Regions from separate parts of the Homo sapiens genome. Here region 1 is reported to be linked to region 2. The links are microRNA targets in miRTarBase. Many come from high-throughput screens and were not tested one by one. Region 2 holds a microRNA gene; the other region holds the end of a gene's coding sequence.
Evidence for each region. Region 2 holds the annotated microRNA hsa-miR-554 (GCUAGUCCUGACUCAGCCAGU, at 2,125-2,145, shown strand). A microRNA usually pairs through its seed, bases 2 to 8, with sites in the 3' UTR of a target mRNA and lowers its output. Matches are read on the target gene's strand: a 7mer-m8 pairs with bases 2 to 8, a 7mer-A1 pairs with bases 2 to 7 and ends in A, and an 8mer does both.

Region 1: the mRNA of PRLR is a reported target of hsa-miR-554. The part of its 3' UTR that is shown has no 7-base or 8-base seed match.

The regions. Positions count from the first base shown.
Region 1 is chr5:35,062,263-35,065,262 of GRCh38, forward strand. It overlaps PRLR (prolactin receptor), which reads right to left. Exons shown (of 10, transcript NM_000949.7): 10 at 1-3,000. The coding sequence ends at 2,827. Among named protein-coding and RNA genes, the nearest start is that of AGXT2, 16 kb to the left of the region's middle.
Region 2 is chr1:151,543,687-151,547,225 of GRCh38, forward strand. It overlaps MIR554 (microRNA 554), which reads left to right and starts at 2,110; the gene lies at 2,110-2,205. The region is part of intron 1 of TUFT1 (tuftelin 1); the gene reads left to right. RefSeq lists an enhancer at 3,242-3,539.

The DNA.
Region 1 (3,000 bases), not on the chromosome of region 2:
TTCAAAGGACCTTAGAGGTTATCTGGTCCAACATCTTCAGAGGAAACTGAGGCTTAGAGGGGGGAATTAATCTCTCCAAGGCAAAGCAGTTAGGACCAGAATCTAGGTCTCTTCACCGCCCCCCTGCCCCACATGTATCCTTCCATTTGAACAGCTGTCTCCTTGATAGACCACAAAAAAACTTTTTGTTAGACCACAAAAAAGCTTAATTCAGATAAACAGTGCTAATTGATCATAGAATTAAAGTCTTGGCCTAATGAGTGGCTAATTGTTTTTTAGGGATTTAATTCAAGTCCTTAGCTGTCACATTTTTTCATACGTATTATACAAAATTATATGTCAAAAGCAGATTACTTTTATGTTTAGGTTTTCAGACTATAAGAGTGACTGATACATATCTTCTCTATTCTTAGAGAATAGACTATGTTAGGAAAGATTTAGTCTGCATTGGCTTTGAGGGTGACTGTCTTTGGTTAATGTCTCTCAAGGTAGATTATATTCCTTGGCCTTTCAGAAGTTGTGCGTAGTTTTGCAGGTCATTCTTTTATGTGAATTCATATAAGATTCAGCATAATGTGAATCTTAAACTACTGATATGTTTCTTTTTTTGCCTGCTTACATGCAGTGTTGTTCATTGCAAGTCAAACAGACTTGATCTGTCCTTTCCAAAAGAGGATTGTTACTATGAACTAAAATAACCTTTAGTGGAAATGGTTGTCTAGAACAATGCTTCTCAAACTTCAGTGTGCAATTGAATCATTTGGGGATCTTAGTAAAATGCAGATTCTGATGCTTAAGATTCTGCAAATGGAATTTTCAAACACTGCCCAGGTGATGCCTATGCAGTTGGTTCTCAGACAGTTAAAGTATCGAGGATTTAGGGGACTGAATGAGCTTGGACAACTTTCCCACACGCTTCCCTTACTCACATGATATTGTTTATATATTAGAAAAATGGAGCTTCGTATCTATTGCTTTTGCCATTCTCAAAACATTGGCAATGTGTTCACTTTCAAACAGGAGGGGGACCTCTGAGTCCAGTTGCTATCAATATGGGATAGTTGGGGTGGAATATTTAACTCCCAGAGGTGAGCTCAAGTTCTCTATGTCCAGCTAGTAAATGGACATATAGAATGGATTTACCATCAAGTGAAGGGAAAAATAGAGAGGGGCTGCTAGATGAGTCATGGATGCGCCCTTTAAAATGAGGATCCAAGCTTTGACTTCTTTCAGGAAGCCTGGCACTGGAATTGACCGGGAGATTCTCATTACCTTACTCTGACCTTTGGAGCTATTCCCATTGCTCTGGGAAGCAAATACCTAGTTTCCCAGAACTTTTATTTGGACACTTCTGATATGAGCCATTTCTGCCTCTGCCAAGATTTTGCAATTGAATTTACTTCAGAGAGACACTAACTCCTGGCTTTGCTTAAAATTTTTTTGTGGCCCAAGATTTCTCACAAAAGCAAAACCTCTCTCTTTTAAACAGCTGTTAGAAATCGTCGCCCTCCCTTTTTATGGTAGCTTTAGGAAGATTCACCCATTGATGAACAGGAGTCCCAGAGGAGCCTGAAACTCAAAGGAGAAATAATTTCTGGTCTGTGGAGAATCCTAAATCCCTAGGTTGGTGGTGGTGGTAGCAGTTGTTTAAAGTGTCCTGGAGATCAAAAGAATCAGATAAACTATACTATATTGCGTTGAAAACTGAATTTTGTCATTCACTTCATATTTCACAGTGGGCTTTGGGTTGGTATGGCATTTTACTCCACAAACGGGAACTTTATATACTACTATGTACTGTAAATACACATTATAACCTTGCAGCAGAAAATACTGTACCCACTGAATACATAAACAGCTGTACTGGGAAAATAGAAAATAGTCTTTTATTTTACCTAAGTCATAGAAAAATAGTCTTCAAAAATACAGTTAAACTTATGGGTTTATATTAAAGTAGAATTTGTATGTACAGTAAGGCAGTAATTCCATTAGCATCCTGCTGTGGTTTTCTTTTCAAGTTAGTCTTTAGGGAATTTTTTTTTAACTAAGGAAAGACTAAGGTGTATAATAAATTATCTATCATGCTGAAATGAAGGAGGAAAACATCCTAAAGGGATTCACATGAAATTCATTTGCCCCTTGTGTAAGAACATTTTTATTTCCAAACTATATTTTATAGAAGCTTTAGAGTAGAATTTAGGGGGAAAATCCATGCTTAACATATCTAAACTATTTTAAGAAAAAATTGGAGGCATTATTTCTTACTTGCATATCAGCAATGTGTCAGTAAGGTATAGGAACTTATGTAAACAATTTGTTCTGGAATGCATTCTTTCTTTAAATGGTTATATTTGGGTAATCCTAATAAAATGGACGAGGAGTGTAAAGGTTATGCAGTTGTTTTTCAAAAGCAATTTTCATGGCATTTTCCTATGTGGAAAATTTTCTTTTGTCATCTTTCTATGGTAAACAATTTTGACAATTTCATTTCCGTCTGTCCCATGCCAAATCATGAAAGCCTTTTCCAGAGGATATACCTATTGGCATTGTCCCTCAAGAATACTAAGCAGTGTGCTTTTATTTCATTGAACACATAGTTTTATAACTAACAGCAAAAAGTAAATCTACAAATCACAGTTAGGAAACATAATGATTTGTTCTGGAATCAGCTGCTGGAGAAAGAGGCAAGTGGTTAAAAATGGAGCATGAAAGGAGCTGGGAGCTTTAGTAGTGTCAGTCTGACTACATTCTTGAGCATTTCACGTACTCTGTAGTGTTACCTGAAGAAAAATCACATTTTAACCAATCATTCCATTAGTCAAGCTATCAGTGAAAGGAGTGTGTAAAACATGCGGGATCCAGGTAATCCAAACCACCCAGCTGGAGCCTGCACTTGCTTGATGTTGCAGTGAAGTTGGCCAGGGCTTTCTCAGCTTGATTCTGTTCAAGTGATGGTGGGGCCTCTTTGGCTGATTCTTCAAAGCAAGCCACGTTTTTAGC
Region 2 (3,539 bases):
GTTCCAGCTGTTTTAGGTCTCTGCACCATTATGCTCAAGATTCCAGGGAGAGAGTACCATTGTCCCTTGGCCCCCAGTTGTCCAGAGCAGGACAGGGTTCCTTGACTGATAGGCCCCCCCCAGATTACAGTGATGGAAGGAGATTCTCCAAAGACCCAAGTGTTGTTATCAGTGGAGGGGAATGGAAGCTGCGTGGCAAAAGAACAGATGTCTATGACATTAGACTTTACCATGGATGATCTCTGATTTCATTTCCCTCCTTCCCTCTCTTCCTTCTTTCCATCCTTCTTTAAATCACTTTTTTTTTTTTTTTTGAGACAGGGTCTCACTCTGTTGCCCAGGCTGGAGTGCAGTGGTGTGATCATAGCTCACTGCAGCCTTGAACTCCTGGACTCAAGGGATCCTTTCACCTCAGCCTCCCAAGTAGCTGGGACCACAGGCATACTCAACATGTTTAGCTAATTTTTCATTTTTCGTAGATATGGGTTCTCACTATGTTGCCCAGGCTAGTCTTGAACTCCTGGTTTAAAGTAATCTTCCTGCCTCGGCCTCTCAAAGTGCTGGGATTACAGGTGTGCACCACTGCACCTGGCCTTAAATCACCTTTTTTTTGGGCGGTGGGAGGGGGAGGATGGAGTCTCACTCTGTCACCCAGGCTGGGGTGCGGTGGCACAATCTTGGCTCACTGCAACCTCCATCTCCCTGGTTCAAGCAATTCTCCTGCCTCAGCCTCCCGAGTAGCTGGGATTACAGGCATGGGCCACCATGCCCAGCTAATTTTTGTACTTTTACTAGAGATGGGGTTTCATCATGTTGGCCAGGCTGGTCTCAAACTCCTGACCTCAAATGATCTGCCCGCTTCGGCCTTCCAAAGTACTGGGATTACAGGCGTGAGCCACCGTGCCTGGCCTCTTAAATCACTTTTTATCAAAGGAGTTTCACTCTTGTTGCCCAGGCTGGAGTGCAACGACGTGATCTCGGACATTTAAAATCACATATGTGCATGATTTTAAAGTATCAAAGTATCAATAATATCAAAAGGCTTTTAAAAGAAAATAGCAGTCCCCTGCTCCAAGTTCTGCTCCATGGAAGTAACCACTTTCTACTCTTTGAGCTGTTTTGTGTTTACCTCCATGTTTCTAAATAATATGCTTACAGTGATTTTAATTGATTTATCAGTTTTAGACATCTATTGACTTCTGTTGTAGGAATTATAGGAAAATCTATACTCCCACCCCTGACATGCTTCCTTCCCATCCTCCCAGTGTAATTGTATTACAATTTTTGGTAATGTAATAAACTAGTTTCTGTTAATAGCATTGTGGTCAAGAGCATGGCTCTGGGCTGAGTGCAGTGGCTCACGTCTGTAATCCCAGCACTTTGGGAGGCTGAGGCAGGTGGATCACCTGAGATCAGGAGTTCGAGACCAGCCTGACCAACATGGCAAAACCCCATCTCTACTAAAAATACAAAATTAGCCAGGTGTGGTGGTGCGCACCTATAATCCCAGCTACTTGGGAGACTGAGGCAGGAGAATCATATGTACCCAGGAGGTGGCGGTTGCAGTGAGCCGAGATCACGCCATTGCACTCCAGCCTGGGCAACAAGAGTGAAACTCCGTCTCAAACAAACAAAAAAAAGAGCATGGCTCTGGGAATCTGACTAAGGTGGGCTCTAATCAGGCTTTGATGTCTGCTTTGCCCAAGCTCACTTAGGCAAATTACTTAATTTCTTCATTCTTAGTTTTCTCACTTGTAAAACTGGGATAATAATTGCACCCTTCTCATAAGGTAGTTGTGAGGATTAAATTAGATAATACACATAAAATATGAAGCACAGTGCCTGGCATGTGGTAAGTACTCAGAGGTTAGCTATTATTTTCTATTTCTACTGGCTTAGACTAGACTGTTTTAACCTCCTATAAGCAACCAGCCAAGGGATGGAGGAAGAGTCTGGGAACTCTCTGGTTTGGGCAAGGTTTGCTCCTCCTCATTATGCTGACTTTTGTTTATTCCTGTTTCTTTCTCGTTTCCTTGATGATCCAGGTCCCTCAACCAGTGGAGAGTCCCAGGGGTGAGAGGAAGGCCTACAGATAGACCCAGGGTGAAGACCTGAGTAACCTTTGCTAGTCCTGACTCAGCCAGTACTGGTCTTAGACTGGTGATGGGTCAGGGTTCATATTTTGGCATCTCTCTCTGGGCATCTTTCCTCTTCTTTTTTAGACCTCATGACCAAGGCAGCTGGTGTCCCCTGCTGCTCTGGTTTCTTTAAGTAATATATCAGTTTTATCTTTCTTTCGAATATTTGCATTTTTTTCTTTTTTTTTTTTTTCTACAGCATCTTTTTATTGTCTTTACCATTACTTTAATGCATTTTAAAATTTATCTACATTAATTGGGAACTATTTGCATTTTTTTCATCCTCTCTCTCTTTTTCTTTTTCTTTTTTTGGATTTGTCTTGGCCAGAGAGGTTCTCCAACACCCGGGTGGACTTGGAATTTTTTTATCAGCTGCAATCTGAAGACTTGTCTTTACTGTGGAATAGGTGACATTCCTTTAGGACCTCAGAAGCTCAAGTAGTTTAATGCCAAGTCTTTCCAGAGCCTCACTCTCTTTTATTTTTTAAATTAGAATTGTGATTTATTGAAGCCTTACCATGAGCTTCATATAATTTTTTATGAACAGCTTTATTGAGATATAATTCATATACCCCATTTAAAGTATGTAACTCAGTGGTTTTTAGTACATTCACAGAGTTGTGCAATCATCAATAAATCAATTTTAGAACATTTCCTTACCTTATAAAGAAATCCTGACCCATTAGCAGTCACTCCCCATTTCCCCCCAATCTCTCTCAGCCCTAGGCAGCCACCAGTCTACTTTTTTTCTCTATGGATTTACCTATTGTGGATATTTAATATAAATGTAATCATCGGTATGTGATCCTTTGTGACTGGCATCTTTTATTAGAATGATGTTTTCAAGGTTCATCCATGTTGTAATGTGAATCAGTACTTCATTCCTTTTTATGGCTGAATAATATTCCATTATTTAGATGTATTACAACTGTGTTCGTCATGGATAAATGTTGGTGGACATTTGGGTTCTTTCTACTTTTTGGCTATCATTTATAATGCTGCTACGAACTTTGGTGTACAAGTTTTTGTGTGGAAATATATTTTCATTTCTCTTGGAGAGGAATACCTAGGAGTGGGATTGCTGGGTCAGAATATTTGCATTTTAAAGGAGGATTCATCTGTAGCCATTGCTGCTTACTCCAGAGGACTGAATGTATTCTAAAATGTGGAAGTCCTGGTTCTGTGACATCTGAGTGTGGGGAAAAACTGCTGGGCAGAGGAGCCTTTCAAGTTTGGTGGCTGCCTGTTCCTTCTACTCATGAAACTTGTCCTAAACTCAGCCCATAAATTTCTCCTCACACCATCCCATCTCTCCCATTTATTGCCAGGTTCTTACTTTCAGGAGCACTGCATTTTTCTGATGTCACCAAGGCTGCCAGGAATTTGGGGAATGCTGGGCTT